Linked DNA regions of Homo sapiens. The protein of the gene in region 1 purifies or fractionates together with the protein of each later gene. This does not show direct contact. Each region holds a gene or a part of one and is shown in the gene's direction. Other genes may lie near its edges. The genes, in order: ZNF227 and MAP3K20.

The links.
Region 2: the proteins of ZNF227 (region 1) and MAP3K20 purify together in Homo sapiens (affinity purification with mass spectrometry; 2 studies listed by BioGRID and IntAct, with this or other methods). This does not show direct contact.

The regions. Positions count from the first base shown.
Region 1 is NC_000019.10:44,222,041-44,229,669, forward strand, and holds part of ZNF227 (zinc finger protein 227), read left to right. Parts: intron 1-5,091; exon of another isoform or gene 5,092-6,405; coding exon 6,406-6,532; exon of another isoform or gene 6,533-6,923; intron 6,924-7,629. UniProt on the Homo sapiens protein: May be involved in transcriptional regulation.
Region 2 is NC_000002.12:173,078,588-173,086,216, forward strand, and holds part of MAP3K20 (mitogen-activated protein kinase kinase kinase 20), read left to right. Parts: intron 1-7,629. UniProt on the Homo sapiens protein: Stress-activated component of a protein kinase signal transduction cascade that promotes programmed cell death in response to various stress, such as ribosomal stress, osmotic shock and ionizing radiation.

The DNA.
Region 1 (7,629 bases):
TTTCTCAGGTTTGTCAAAGATCAGATAGTTGTAGATCTGTGGCGTTATTTCTGAGGGCTCTGTTCTGTTCCATTGATCTATATCTCTGTTTTGGTACCAGTACCATGCTGTTTTGGTTACTGTAGCCTTGTAGTATAGTTTGAAGTCAGGTAGCATGATGCCTCCAGCTTTGTTCTTTTGGCCTAGGATTGACTTGGCGATGTGGGCTCTTTTTTGGTTCCATATGAACTTTACAGTAGTTTTTTCCTATTCTGTGAAGAAAGTCATTGGTAGCTTGATGGGGATGGCATTGAATCTATAAATTACCTTGGGCAGTATGGACATTTTCACGATATTGATTCTTCCTACCCATGAGCATGGAATGTTCTTCCATTTGTTTGTATCCTCTTTTATTTCATCGAGCAGTGGTTTGTAGTTCTCCTTGAAGAGGTCCTTCACATCCCTTGTAAGTTGGATTCCTAGGTATTTTATTCTCTTTGAAGCAATTGTGAATGGGAGTTCACTCATGATTTGGCTCTCTGTTTGTCTGTTATTGGTGTATAAGAATGCTTGTGATTTTTGTACATTGACTTTGTATCCTGAGACTTTGCTGAAGTTGCTTATCAGCTTAAGGAGATTTTGGGCTGAGACAATGGGGTTTTCTAGATATACAATCATGTCATCTGCAAACAGGGACAATTTGACTTCCTCTTTTCCTAATTGAATACCCTTTATTTCCTTCTCCTGCCTGATTGCCCTGGCCAGAACTTCCAACACTATGTTGAATAGGAGTGGTGAGAGAGGGCACCCCTGTCTTGTGCCAGTTTTCAAAGGGAATGCTTCCAGTTTTTGCCCATTCAGTATGATATTGGCTGTGGGTTTGTCATAGATAGCTCTTATTATTTTGAGATATGTCCCATCAATACCTAATTTATTGAGAGTTTTTAGCATGAAGGGTTGTTGAATTTTGTCAAAGGCCTTTTCTGCATCTATTGAGATAATCATGTGGTTTTTGTCTTTGGGTTTCTTTATATGCTGTATTACATTTATTGATTTGCGTATGTTGAACCAGCCTTGCATCCCAGGGATGAAGCCCACTTGATCATGGTGGATAAGCTTTTTGATGTGCTGCTGGATTTGGTTTGCCAGTATTTTATTGAGGATTTTTACATCAATGTTCATCAAGGATATTGGTCTAAAATTCTCTTTTTTGGTTGTGTCTCTGCCTGGCTTTGGTATCAGGATGATGCTAGCCTCATAAAATGAGTTAGGGAGGATTCCCTCTTTTTCTATTGATTGGAATAGTTTCAGAAGGAATGGTACCAGCTCCTCCTTGTACCTCTGGTAGAATTCTGCTGTGAATCCATCTGGTCCTGGACTCTTTTTGGTTGGTAAGCTATTGATTATTGCCACAATTTCAGAGCCTGTTATTGGTCTATTCAGAGATTCAACTTCTTCCTGGTTTAGTCTTGGGAGGGTGTATGTGTTGAGGAATTTATCCATTTCTTCTAGATTTTCTAATTTATTTGCGTAGAGGTGTTTGTAGTATTCTCTGATGGTAGTTTGTATTTCTGTGGGATCAGTGGTGATATCCCATTTATCATTTTTTATTGGGTCTATTTGATTCTTCTCTCTTTTTTTCTTTATTAGTCTTGCTAGCGGTCTATCAATTTTGTTGATCTTTTCAAAAAACCAGCTCCTGGATTCATTAATTTTTTGAAGGGTTTTTTGTGTCTCTATTTCCTTCAGTTCTGCTCTGATTTTAGTTATTTCTTGCCTTCTGCTAGCTTTTGAATGTGTTAGCTCTTGCTTTTCTAGTTCTTTTAATTGTGATGTTAGGGTGTCAGTTTTGGATCTTTCCTGCTTTCTCTTGTGGGCATTTAGTGCTATAAATTTCCCTCTACACACTGCTTTGAATGCGTCCCAGAGATTCTGGTATGTTGTTCTTTGAAACCAATGAGAACAAAGACACATCTTTATTTCTGCCTTCATTTTGTTATATACCCAGTAGTCATTCAGGAGCAGGTTGTTCAGTTTCCATGTAGTTGAGCAGTTTTGAGTGAGTTTCTTAATCCTGAGTTCTAGTTTGATTACACTGTGGTCTGAGAGACAGACAGTTTGTTATAATTTCTGTTCTTTTACATTTGCTGAGGAGAGCTTTACTTCCAACTATGTGGTCAATTTTGGAATAGTTGTGGTGTGGTGCTGAAAAAAATGTATATTCTGTTGATTTGGGGTGGAGAGTTCTGTAGATGTCTATTAGGTCCACTTGGTGCAGAGCTGAGTTCAATTCCTGGGTATCCTTGTTAACTTTCTGTCTCGTTGATCTGTCTGATGCTGACAGTGGGGTGTTAAAGTCCCCCATTATTATTGTGTGGGTGTCTAAGTCTCTTTGTAGGTCACTCAGGACTTGCTTTATCAATCTGGGTGCTCCTGTATTAGGTGCATATATATTTAGGATAGTTAGCTCTTGTTGAATTGATCCCTTTACCATTATGTAATGGCCTTCTTTGTCTCTTTTGATCTTTGTTGGTTTAAAGTCTGTTTTATCAGAGACAAGGATTGCAACCCCTGCCTTTTTTTTGTTTTCCATTTGCTTGGTAGATCTTCCTCCATCCTTTTATTTTGAGCCTATGTGTGTCTCTGCACGTGAGATGGGTTTCCTGAATACAGCACACTGATGGGTCTTGACTCTTTATCCAATTTGCCAGTCTATGTCTTTTAATTGGTGCATTTAGCCCATTTACATTTAAAGTTAATATTGTTATGTGTGAATTTTGTCCTGTCATTTTGATGTTAGCTGGTTATTTTGCTCGTTAGTTGATGCAGTTTCTTCCTAGCCTTGATGGTCTTTACATTTTGGCATGATTTTGCAGTGGCTGGTACTGGTTGTTCCTTTCCATGTTTAGTGCTTCCTTCAGGAGGTCTTTTAGGGCAGGCCTGGTGGTGACAAAATCTCTCAGCATTTGCTTGTCTGTAAAGTATTTTATTTCTCCTTCACTTATGAAGCTTAGTTTGGCTGGATATGAAATTCTGGGTTGAAAATTCTTTTCTTTAAGAATGTTGAATATTGGCCCCCACTCTCTTCTGGCTTGTAGAGTTTCTGCCGAGAGATCCGCTGTTAGTCTGATGGGCTTCCCTTTGTGGGTAACCTGACCTTTCTCTCTGGCTGCCCTTAACATTTTTTCCTTCATTTCAACTTTGGTGAATCTGACAATTATGTGTCTTGGAGTTGCTCTTCTCGAGGAGTATCTTTGTGGCGTTCTCTGTATTTCCTGAATCTGAATGTTGGCCTGCCTTGCTAGATTGGGGAAGTTCTCTTGGATAATATCCTGCAGAGTGTTTCCAACTTGGTTCCATTCTCCCCGTCACTTTCAGGTACACCAATCAGACGTAGATCTGGTCTTTTCACATAGTCCCATATTTCTTGGAGGCTTTGTTCGTTTCTTTTTATTCTTTTTTCTCTGAACTTCCGTTCTCGCTTCATTTCATTCATTTCATCTTCCATCACTGATACCCTTTCTTCCAGTTGATCGCATCGGCTCCTGAGGCTTCTGCATTCTTCATGTAGTTCTCGAGCCTTGGCTTTCAGCTCCATCAGCTCCTTTAAGCACTTCTCTGTATTGGTTATTCTAGTTATACATTTGTCTAAATTTTTTTCAAAGTTTTTAACTTCTTTGCCATTTGTTTGAATTTCCTCCTGAAGCTCGGAGTAGTTTGATCGTCTGAAGCCTTCTCTCAACTCGTCAAAGTCATTCTCCATCCAGCTTTGTTCCATTGCTGGTGAGGAGCTGCATTCCTTTGGAGGAGGAGAGGCGCTCTGCTTTTTAGAGTTTCCAGTTTTTCTGCTCTGTTTTTTCCCCATCTTTATGGTTTTATCTAGTTTTGGTCTTTGATGCTGGTGATGTACAGATGGGTTTTTGGTGTGGATGTCCTTTCTGTTTGTTAGTGTTCCTTCTAACAGACAGGACCCTCAGCTGCAGGTCTGTTGGAGTTTGCTAGAGGTCCACTCCAGACCCTTTTTGCCTGGGTATCAGCAGCGGTGGCTGCAGAACAGCGGTGGCTGTAGAACAGCAGATATTGGTGATCTGCAAATGCTGCTGCCTGATTGTTCCTCTGGAAGTTTTGTCTCAGAGGAGTACTCAGCTGTGTGAGGTGTCAGTCTGCCCCTACTGGGGGGGTGTCTCCCAGTTAGGCTGCTTGGAGGTCAAGGACCCACTTCAGGAGGCAGTCTGCCGGATCTCAGATCTCCAGCTGCATGCTGGGAGAACCACTACTCTGTTCAAAGCTGTCAGACAGGGACATTTAAGTCTGCAGAGGTTATTGCTGTCTTTTTGTTTGTGCCCTGCCCCTAGAGGTGGAGCCTACAGAGGCAGGCAGGCCTCCTTGAGCTGTGGTGGGCTCCACCCAGTTCGAGCTTCCAGGCTGCTTTGTTTACCTAATCAAGCCTGGGCAATGGCAGGCGCCCTCCCCCAGCCTCGCTGCCTCCTTGCAGTTTGATCTCAGACTGCTGTGCTAGCAATCAGCGAGACTCTGTGGGCGTAGGACCCTCCGAGCCATGTGCAGGATATAATCTCCTGGTGTGCCGTTTTTTAAGTCCATTGGAAAAGCGCAGTATTAGGGTGGGAGTGACCTGATTTTCCAGGTGCCGTCTGTCACCCCTTTCTTTGACTAGGAAAGGGAACTCCTTGACCCCTTGTGCTTCCCAAGTGAGGCAATGCCTCACCCTGCTTTGGCTCACACCCAGTGTGCTGCACCCACTGCCCTGCGCCCACTGTCTGGCACTCCCTAGTGAGATGAACCCAGTACCTCAGATGGAAATGCAGAAATCACCCGTCTTCTGCATTGCTCATGCTGGGAGCTGTAGACCGGAGCTGTTCCTATTCAGCCATCTTGGCTCCACCCCTCAAAACTTTTAAAGTAAATATTCTATGACTTTGCAGTTGCTACTTCTTGGCCATGAGCTCTGTAAAAGGATCTTTGTAGTATTGGTTATAAGTAAAAATCTGTAATTAATTGTACATTATTTGGATTGGTTAGAGATAAATCTTCAGTTCCAAGGAATCCTGTTGTATGTAGTCACAAAATAGGACAAAAGAGATGATAAAGATATGCGTTGTTCGAGTTTATTGAGCATGTATGGTGTGCTAGGCACTTCTAAGTGCTTGACATATATTCATTCATCTGATCCTTTCAAACACTTTATGATCTATTTATTTTAATTCTAAAAATTTATTTATTTTAAGACAGTGTCTCACCCCTGTCACCCAGGCTGGAGTGCAGTGGCGCCATCTTGGCTCACTGCAACCTCCGCTTCCCAGGTTCAAGTGATTCTCCTGCCTCAGCCTCCTGAGTAGCTGGGATTACAGACGCACATCACCACGCCTGGCTAATTTTTTTGTATTTTTAGTAGAGACGGGGTTTCAGCATCTTAGCCAGGCTGGTCTCAAACTCCTGGCCTCAAGTGATTTGCCCGCCTCGGCCTCCCAAAGTGCTGGCATTACAGGTGTGAGCCACTGTGCCTAGCCTGAAAATTTATTTTTAAAAATTGAGACAGGGTCTCACTCTGTTGCCCAGGCTGAAGTGCAGTGGCACAATCATGGCTCACTGCACCGTCAAACTCCTGGGCTGAAGTGATCCTTCTGTGTCAGGCTCATACACCTTATAATTTAGATACAATGATAAAGAAGAGGAAATTCAGTTAGTGAGAGATTAAGGAATTTGCCCAAGGTCCTATAACTAGTAAAAGGCAAAACCTTGAAATTTGAACCTGGCCAGACTCCAGAGCCAGTGCTTTAAATTAAGCAGCTGTGCATCCTGTAGTAGGTGGATGTGACATGTGCCTTGAAAGCACAGGAAGAGCTATATACCTGTCCAGGGGGTTGCTGAAGGCCTGTGAACTTTGCAAACGTTAAAAACAATGATAGGGCCAGGCTCAGTGGCTCACACCTATAATCACAGCACTTTGGGAGGCCAAGGCGGGCAGATCATTGGAGGTCAGGAGTTTGAGACCAGCCTGGCCAACATGGTGAAACCCCGTCTCTACTAAATAAATACAAAAATTAGCCGGGCATGGTAGTAGACGCCTGTAATCCCACCTACTTGGGAGGCTAAGGCAGGAGAATCTCTTGAACCCGGGAGGCGGAGGTTGCAGTGAGCAGAGATTGCGCCACTGCTCCAGCACGGGTGACAGAGTGAGACTCCATCTCAAAAAAGAAAAAAACAAAAAACAGTGATAAACTACAGGCTTTATGGGGATGAGCGTAGGAGATAGTGAGACAGGGAAAACTGTAACAGCTGAAAATTGACTGAGATCTCTTGGAATCTATAACAACTTTTTTGTGGTGCTCTTTTCCTTCTTGATGCCACCCTTCTTCTAGTGAAGGTTGGTTGTAAGATTGAGGTTACATGTGTTTGATATTGTAGGAGGCTGTGACATTCAAGGATGTGGCTGTGGTCTTCTCCAGGGAGGAACTGCGACTGCTCGATCTTACCCAGAGGAAGCTGTACCGAGATGTCATGGTGGAGAACTTCAAGAACCTGGTTGCAGTGGGTGAGGACAGGCACTCTCTGACCCTGAACTTCAGTTCCCTTGAGAATCTCTTTGCTCTCAGGTGTTTAAGGGTTTGGACCTTTTAAAATGGTTCTTTGCTCTTGAAGACAAAAGGTTTTCTAATCCCTGGGAAAACAGGATAGGTTTTTCTGGTCTTTCTGCTCAGGCAAAATTCTGTCCTTTTAAATTGCTGGTTCTCAACCATGGGTGATTTCGCCCCCAGAAGATATTTGGCAATGTCTGGAAATGGTTGTCACACCTGACAGAGGGGTGCTATTGGCATTTTGTGGGTAGTATCCAGGAATTCTGCAAAATCTCCTACAGTGCACAGGACAGTGCCCCCAACAGAGAATTGGCCAGTCCAAAATAGTAGTGCTGCAGTTGCAAAACCCTGTTTTAAATGAACCGTAAATGGACACATTAGCTTCTATGCTTTATCTTTCAAATACGTTGTCTTTCAAATGAAACCCATCAATGCATTAACTTAGTGCACTGTACTGGCTTTTTTTTCAATGAAATAAAACAGATAAGGATAGAAAATATCAGAGCTTCTTATCAGGAACTGCTCACATTGCAACAAAAACTGACAATTTTCAGTGAATGGTGTGAGATACAGCATTGCAAATGTGATGAAAACAGACATTAGCCAAGTATAACTTGAGAGAGAGATATATTATATATATATGAACTAGGCTACAACCTAAATTTCTTATTATAGTTCATGATCTTAAAACATCTTAAAATAAATCACTCTAGAGGCCGGGCATGGTGGCTTACGCCTTTAATTGCAGCAATACGGGAGGCCAGGGTGGGTGGATCACTTGAGGTCACGAGTTCAAGACCATCCTGGCCAACATGGTGAAACCCCATCTCTACTAAAAATGCAAAAATTAGCCGGGTGTGGTGGCAGGTGCCTGTAATCCCAACTACTCGGGAGGCTGAGGCAGGAGACTTGCTTGAACCCTGGAGGCAGAGGTTGCAGTGAGCCGAGATTGTGCCATTGCACTTCAGCCTGGGCGATAGAGTGAGACTCTGTCTCAAAATAAATAAATAAAATAATAAAATATCACTATAGAGGTTGTGAGGCTTATAGGGTT
Region 2 (7,629 bases), on another chromosome or scaffold:
CTACGGATGCTGAAGCATCGTCCTAATAGCTGTTAAGTAATCCCAGCACAGTAGAAGAATCTGTGAGAACAAAGCAGCCCCACATTTGACACCCTAACCCCAGTGTCTTCAATTGTAATAGGAAATTAAAGCCTCAAATTGAACTTTAGGTGGATGGTGAGCAATCCAGTAATTACTGTAATAAGAAAATAGTTTAAATAGGGTAAACAAAAGGCAAATTAGAAGGAGGAGGCAGAATGTTATTAACAAAAAGACATGATATGGTAGAAAACAATGATATGACTTTGGAGTCAGGCCTGAATTTGACACAAGTTGTGTCACCTGTAAGGTAGTTGGCTTGAGCTACTTTCATACCCCTGATCCTCAGTTTTCTCACTCATGTAAGTTAGGAACAGTAGTACCTGCTTCCTAAGGATAAGTACAGTCATGTGTCCATTAATGATGGGGATACGTTCTGAGAGAACTGTGTTGTTACGTGATGTTGTAGTTGTGTAAATACCACAGCGTGCACCTACACAAACCTAGATGCTATAGCCTACTACACACCTAGGCTGTGTGAGATAGTCCGTTGCTCCTAGGCTACAGACCTATGTAGCATGCTGCTATACTGAATAGGCAGTTGTAACACAGTAATAAGTATTTCTATCGAAAAATAGAAAAGGCACAGTAAAAATACAGTATAAAATATACAGTATCAAAGATAAAAAATGGTACACCCGTATAGGGCATTTACCATGAATGGAGGTTGCAGGACTGGAAGTTGTTTGGGGCAAGTCAGTGAGTGAGTGGTGAGGGAATGTGAAGGCCCAGGACATCACTGTACACTACTGTAGACTTTATAAACACTGTACACTTAGGCTCTACTAGATTTATTTAAACATTTTTCTTCAATAATAAATTAACCTTAGCTTGCTGTAACTTTCTTGTTTTATAAACTTTAAACTTTTTTTTAACTTTTTGAGTCTTTTGAAATAACACTTAGCTTAAAACACAAACACATTGTACAGCTATACAAAAATTCTTTATATCCTTATTCTGTAAGATTTTTTTTCTATTTTTAAATTTAAAAAAAAATTTGTTTTGCTTCTTAAACTTTGTTAAAAACTAAGACAGAAACACACACATCAGCCTAGCCCCACATGGGGTTAGGATCGTCAATATCACTGTTTTCTACCTCCACATCTTGGCTCACTGGAAGGTCTTCAGGGGCAGTAATGTATATGGAGCTGCCATCTCCCCATCTCCAGTGATAACAATGCCTTCTTCTGGACACCTCCTGAAGGACCTGCCTCAGTTAATTTTCTTTTTTTTTTTTTTAAGTGGAAAGAGTATGCTCTAAAATGAGGATAAAAAGTATAGTAAATACATAAATGAGTAACACAGTCATTATCCTTATCAAGCATTGTGCACTGTACATAATTGTATGTGCCGTACCTTTATACAGCTGGCAGCATAATAAGTTTGTTTACACCAGCATCACCACAAACACATGAGTAATGCATTGTGCTATGATGTTAGGAAACTGTGCCATCACTCAGCAATAGGAATTTTTCAGCTTTATTACAATCTTATGGGATCGCTGTTATATATGCAGTCCATTGTTGACTAAAGCATAGTTATGTGGTGCATGACTTTATGAGAAAGCACATAGAAATGCTTGTAACAGTGCCTGAAATTTCAGCCACTGTATCAATGTGGTAAAGAAGGATGTTTTACTACATCTCTCAAGTTATACGCAGAGCTGCTTGCCCACTGTCCTAGTCTGTTTTCTGCTGCTAGAGCAGTCTGTCACAGCCTGGGTAATTTACAAGGAACAAGGGTAATTTATTTGGCTCATGGTTCTGGAGCCTGGGAAGTCCAGGTACATGGCTCTGGCATCTGGCGAGAATCACCCATTGTGGAAGGGTGGAAGGCGAAAGCAAGCCATGAAAGACAAAGAGAAAAAGTGAACTCCTGAGATAATTAACCTACTCCCAGGATAACAGTGAGAATCCATTTATGACCTAATCACCTCTTAAAGGTTCTGCTTCCCAGTACTGTTACATTAGCGATTAAGTAATTAAGTTTCAACATGAATTTTGGTGGGAGCATTCCTACCATAGCACTCAGCTCTTCCAGCTAAGGCTTGCCTTTGGTACCCTGTCCTGTTCCCAAGTTATACTTATGTAGTGGGTATGTAGGTTTTCATAACTACTCTCCTGCTTTGAGTATAAGTGTTTCTAAAGTGTGCTTTAGAACCACTTGGAACCATTTTTATAGCTAATTTTGAGCAAGGCCCCAATACCCTTCTTTCTGGACTCATCTCCAGGCTTCCATTTAAGAAAACCAAAAAGAAAAGGAAAGAATTGCTGTCTGCACGTCATGTAATAAATCTTTACTTATTAAACTTTTCTACCAAAGTACTCTATTGTGGGGATAAATGAATGTTTTCCTTCAAGAATTTGTCCGTATAGCCACAGATACCCCAATGCAAGCAAGTACTTGCTTTAAAATTTTATATTTAATCTTAAAAATTTATGTGGATTTTGCATTCTCTTCTGTCCTACACTGTTTTACTTAAATTGAACAAATCGATACAGACACATATTTTAAAAAAGACAAATTTTTTTTTTTTTTTTTTTTAGAAACAGAGTCTTGCTATGTTGTCCAGGCTGGCCTTGAACTCCTGTGCTCTAGCAATCCTCCCACCTGAACTTTCCCTGTAGCTGGGGCTGAGGGTATGTGCTACCTTGCCTGGCTTATTCCCCATAGTGTTAAAGTGAAATTGATGCTGTAGGACAGCTGTTTATTCATATCACCTTCTGCACAGTACTGTGTAATACCACGTATGGGAATAAGCACACGAGGAACATGGGATTGGTCCTAATAAAGAGTCCTGCACCATTAAGCTCTGCAGCCCAATACTGCATGGGGTAGTGCAATTCCATTTTGCTGATAAAAGAATAGGGGTAGATCATCATCCAAAGAGTTTTGATGTTAGGTGGTTATACGATGGCTTTCAAGACAAAGAGATCTCTTTGCTTTGGGAATTGGGGGGAAGGAAGAGGAAAGTTTTAGGATAGAAACCTGGAATGTGGCTCTTAGCTTCTCACCCAGTTTGGGAGGAGAAATTGAAGAAGATGGCCAAATCGTTTCCTTTATTTCCATCACTGATGTGGTTCACTGTGCTTCTCCATGATGTTTGGTGTCGGGTTCATGACTGCTTCCCTCAGAAAAGGAGGGAGACCGTCTATACTTTATAGTAGATTAGTCATCAACTCAACAGGGTTGGAGTGGGTCTTAAAGTGGTTTCATTCTGCCCTCTTAGCTGATGCAAGAGTCTCCCACTCCCACTCTACACCGCATATCCCATTGAACGCTCTTGGTGATGGGTCACTCACTACTAAAGAGGGTGGCAGATTTTCTTGTTGGCCAACTCTAAACCAGGAATCCTTTGTTTTTTTTTTGGAGACAGGGTCTCACTTTGTGCAGTGGCATAATCATAGCTTATGGCAACCTTGAACTCTTGGGCCCAAGCTATCCTCCCACCTCAGTCTCTTGAGTAGCAGGGACTACAGGCATGAACCACCACACCTGGCTAATTTTTATTTATTCATTTTTTGTACAGATGGGATCTCACTATGCTGCCCAAGTTGGTCTTAAATGCCTGACCTCAAGCGATACTCCCACTTTGGCCTCCCAAAGAACCAGAAATTCTTTCTGTAACTTTCATCCACAGATAGCCTTGCCTCTTGATCATCAAAACATAATATAAGGTCTTAGTCTTCCCTAGTTTTACCATCCCCATTCCTTTCACCCTTCATCTTACATTGAGGTTACCATGTTTTAACTCTTGCATTCACCCTTCTCAGGGAGTATTCATTCCAGGCACTCAGTCCAAAGTTGTACCTGTCTGTCAGCAGCCAGGATGGTCTGATACTTTCTATTTGACAGAAAACGATTTGGGGTACAAACAAGGGCTGAGTAGCAGCAAGACCTAGGGTGGGGGCAGGATAGGTGGGAGGTAGCGAACTGAAGTGAGCCTTGTTTACTCATAGGCTACGGCTTTCTCCTCATCCCCAGTCCTGACACCTGTGAATTCCTCTTCTGGCCAAGCCCTAGAAATCTCCCCTCTCCGTGCACCCTCACTTTATTCAACTCTGGCCCCATTCTCTTCCTCATGCTGCAAGAAGCTCCCAGCTACTCAACACAACAAGCCCACGCAGCGGCCTATGCCGTGGCCGTAGGTTGTATCCACTTCATGTTTCCTTGTTGGGCTTCTGTTTGAGCACAGACATGTTTCCACGCAGCATTTCTGTGGCGTTAAGTGCTCCCACCAACTACATTCCTGTGCCTCCCATCTTTTACTTCTGGTAACAATACTTTTGGTAAGGAAGTGTGTTGTGGAAGTTGACTTTTATTAAATTACTTTAATTATTTCAATAAGAATGCCTCACTACTAAATTACTTTAATATTTCAATAAGAATGTTTAGCTTATTTTTATTCTTACCATTGCTCTAACTAGAGAGTTACATTACTTTTATATGGTAAAGATAGAGGAAGGGGGAAAATATGAAACAATGGCTATTCTGTTTTTTGGATTCTTATTTAAAGTTGGGTTCTCTCAGATATCTATGCCTGAAGTCCTATTTACTGAACCCAACCTACTCTGTATAAGATACACTATTTTTCTAGGAGCAGCCTTGGAGGAAGAAAGGAAATATCTGGTAGATACAGTACAAGTTGGTTCTGTTCCTATACCTAGTCTTGCAACTTTTATTTTTTTATTTTTTATTTTTTTTTTTTGAGACAGAGTCTCACTGTCACCCAGGCTGGAGTGCAGTGGCGTAATCATAGCTCACTGCAGCCTCGACCTCCTGGGCTCAAGCGATCCTCCTGCCTCAGCCTTGCAGAGTGCTGGGATTACAGGTGTGAGCCACTGTACCCAGCCAGCTTTTATCTTTTTTAGTGATTAAAAAAAAATAGTAGAACAGCAGTCCTGTTGAGGAATAGAATCTTTGAATCTTTGACCTTGGTGTTACGGACAAATACACTGAACCAGAGCTTTCCTCATTTTTTTGAAGATAAGACTCAGGGGAAAAAAATTGCAGAACAGTGATTCCAAGTGGTGTTCTTTTTATACACATGATGACAAAGCACATATTATTAATTTATTCACTGATCTATGTTAAAGAGGCTGAAATAATACTAGCATAAATATCAAGGCAGCAAGTTTGGCAAAATAATTTGCTGAATATTGAAAGCTCTTTTCAAAAAGTATCTTTTTTGTCACATCCAGGTCATGATAAAACGTGTAAGTTTTTCTTCCTATATTGTATAAAAAGTAAACTGGCAACCTTACTTTTTGAAGAAGGGGGAAAGGAAAGTATGAATTAGGGACAGGAAAAGAGGAAGGCTCTAAATTCAGAAATATAGGCCCATATAAAACCACAAGATAGAAACATCCAGAGAAAGTTCAAAGACCTTTTTTCTAGTAAAGTTAATCCTTTCATAAAGTAGGTTTTTATTTTTACTTTTAGAAATGAGATCTCCCTATGTTGCCCCAGCTGAGCTCAAGTGATCCTCCAACCTCTGCTTCCCAAAATGCTGGGATTGCAGGTGTGAGCCACTGTGCCCGGCCAAAGTAGATTTAATTTTTTTTAAAAAATCATCACTTGCAGGTATTGGATAATCAGGTTAAGTTTTCTTGGGTTAGACGTGCAATTGACTGTGCAGCAGATAATGTCTGAAAGAAGACCGTGGTCACTGGGGAAGGAGGGGATGCTCCAGCACCCTACCAAAGTGAGTGCTATCATTGAATAAATAGATCTTAGCAATGCTAATGTCCAAAAAGTGCAAAAAAAAAAAAAGAAAAGTATTGTGTTTTAGCAATTTAAATACATTATGAAAAAAGCTTAAAAGAAATTATAATTACTTACTAATAAGATCTTTCAGAAATGACAAAAACCAAAAACGGCAGTTAAACAGAGGAATGAGAAAGAATTAGAAAATAGGCAAAGAGAGGGAAAGGATTCAGGGATCAATAGCACCTTTATTTGTTAATAATTGCTCTACAAAACTAAGAGATATAATATAAAACAATTCTGAAAATGGGGAGAGGAAAGCTATTGAGAGCATACCTGACCATAAAAACTGAAGGAATAGATGGCTAAATATGATATCAAGGGTTATTAAAATAATGAGAAAACCATAATTTCCATTAATTGCATGTATACCATATACTAGGCACTGTGCTCACGTATGCACTTTCACAGCACTGGTATTATTGCCAGTGAGAACAGTGAGGTCAGAGAGACACAGTGCCTTGCCCAAGTAGCTAATAACAGATCTGCTCATAGATCTCTCTAGTAGGGGTCTTTACCCTGAATCATGCTACTTCCCTGTTGAAATATCTCTTATTTGGAAGTGAGATGTATCAATGAAGTCAAATACTATGCAAACTTGATAACTTTGGGGCTATCAGTTTTGTGACATTGAATGGAAAAGATTTGAAATTTTTTATTTATGCATCTGGAAATGCCACAGTCTGAGAAAAAGTGATTTGTTAAAGTTACCGAGAGGTGGAGGGAGAGTTCAAACTCCTATCAATCTAATTCTAAAACCTTGCTTTTTAACATTAGAACTGTAGTGGGGTCATTTTTGTTTTTAATTTGGGGCAAAAGTAACAGTGAAAAGGTAAATGACTTATTTGAGGTCAACATGGATCTGAAAAATCAAGAAGCAAAATAGAAGGTCTGTGAATAGAGAAACTTAAGTCTATTTTTTTGGACTAGAAGATTGAAAACTTTAAAAAGTAAAATAATTCTTTAAGATTTCCTACCTTCTTATGTTTCCACTTTTCATAATTAGGTGATGCTGCTATATATGCTTTCAGCAATTTGGTTAATAGTTAAATGTTTTTGAATTTTAATTTAAGGAAAACTTTAAATTAAAAATTTTTTGACATTCTACTCAAGTAGTGAAATGATTGGATTCAACCACCAAATTATTGATTTTCAACATTTACAGAGTTGTGATGCCTTATTTTACTTTGATTTTTGTGACATTTCTGCTCTAACTTACCCTTCAGTATTGTATGGTAGATACTTAACATTTAAAACAGCTTTGAGAGTTTATAAAACAACAGTTAGAATCCTACAAAACTAAAACTGAGCATTGTTGCGTGGAGCAAAATTGCCTTTTTTGTGTAAAAGCAATTTTTTTTTTTTTTTTTTTTTTTTTTTTTGAGATAGAGCCTTGCTCTGTTGTCCAGGCTGGAGTGCAGTGGTGCGATCTTGGCTCACAGTAACCTCTGCCTCTACGGTTCGAGCAATTCTCCTGCCTCAACCTCCCAGGTAGCTGTGATTACAGATGCACGCCACCATGCCTGGCTAATTTTTGCATTTTTAGTAGAGATGGGGTTTTGCCATGTTGACCAGGCTGGTCTCGAACTCCTGACCTCAAGTGATCCACCCATCTCGGCTTCCCAAAGTGCTGGGACTATAGGCGTGAGCCACCGTGCCTGGCCAAAACAATTCTTTTAATGCAGTGAGATGAAAACGTTGGATTTGATTTGATATACCATGTAAATAAATTTATATAGATGACTTTTTATTAAATTCTGGTATATTCATTAAGTGGAGAATACA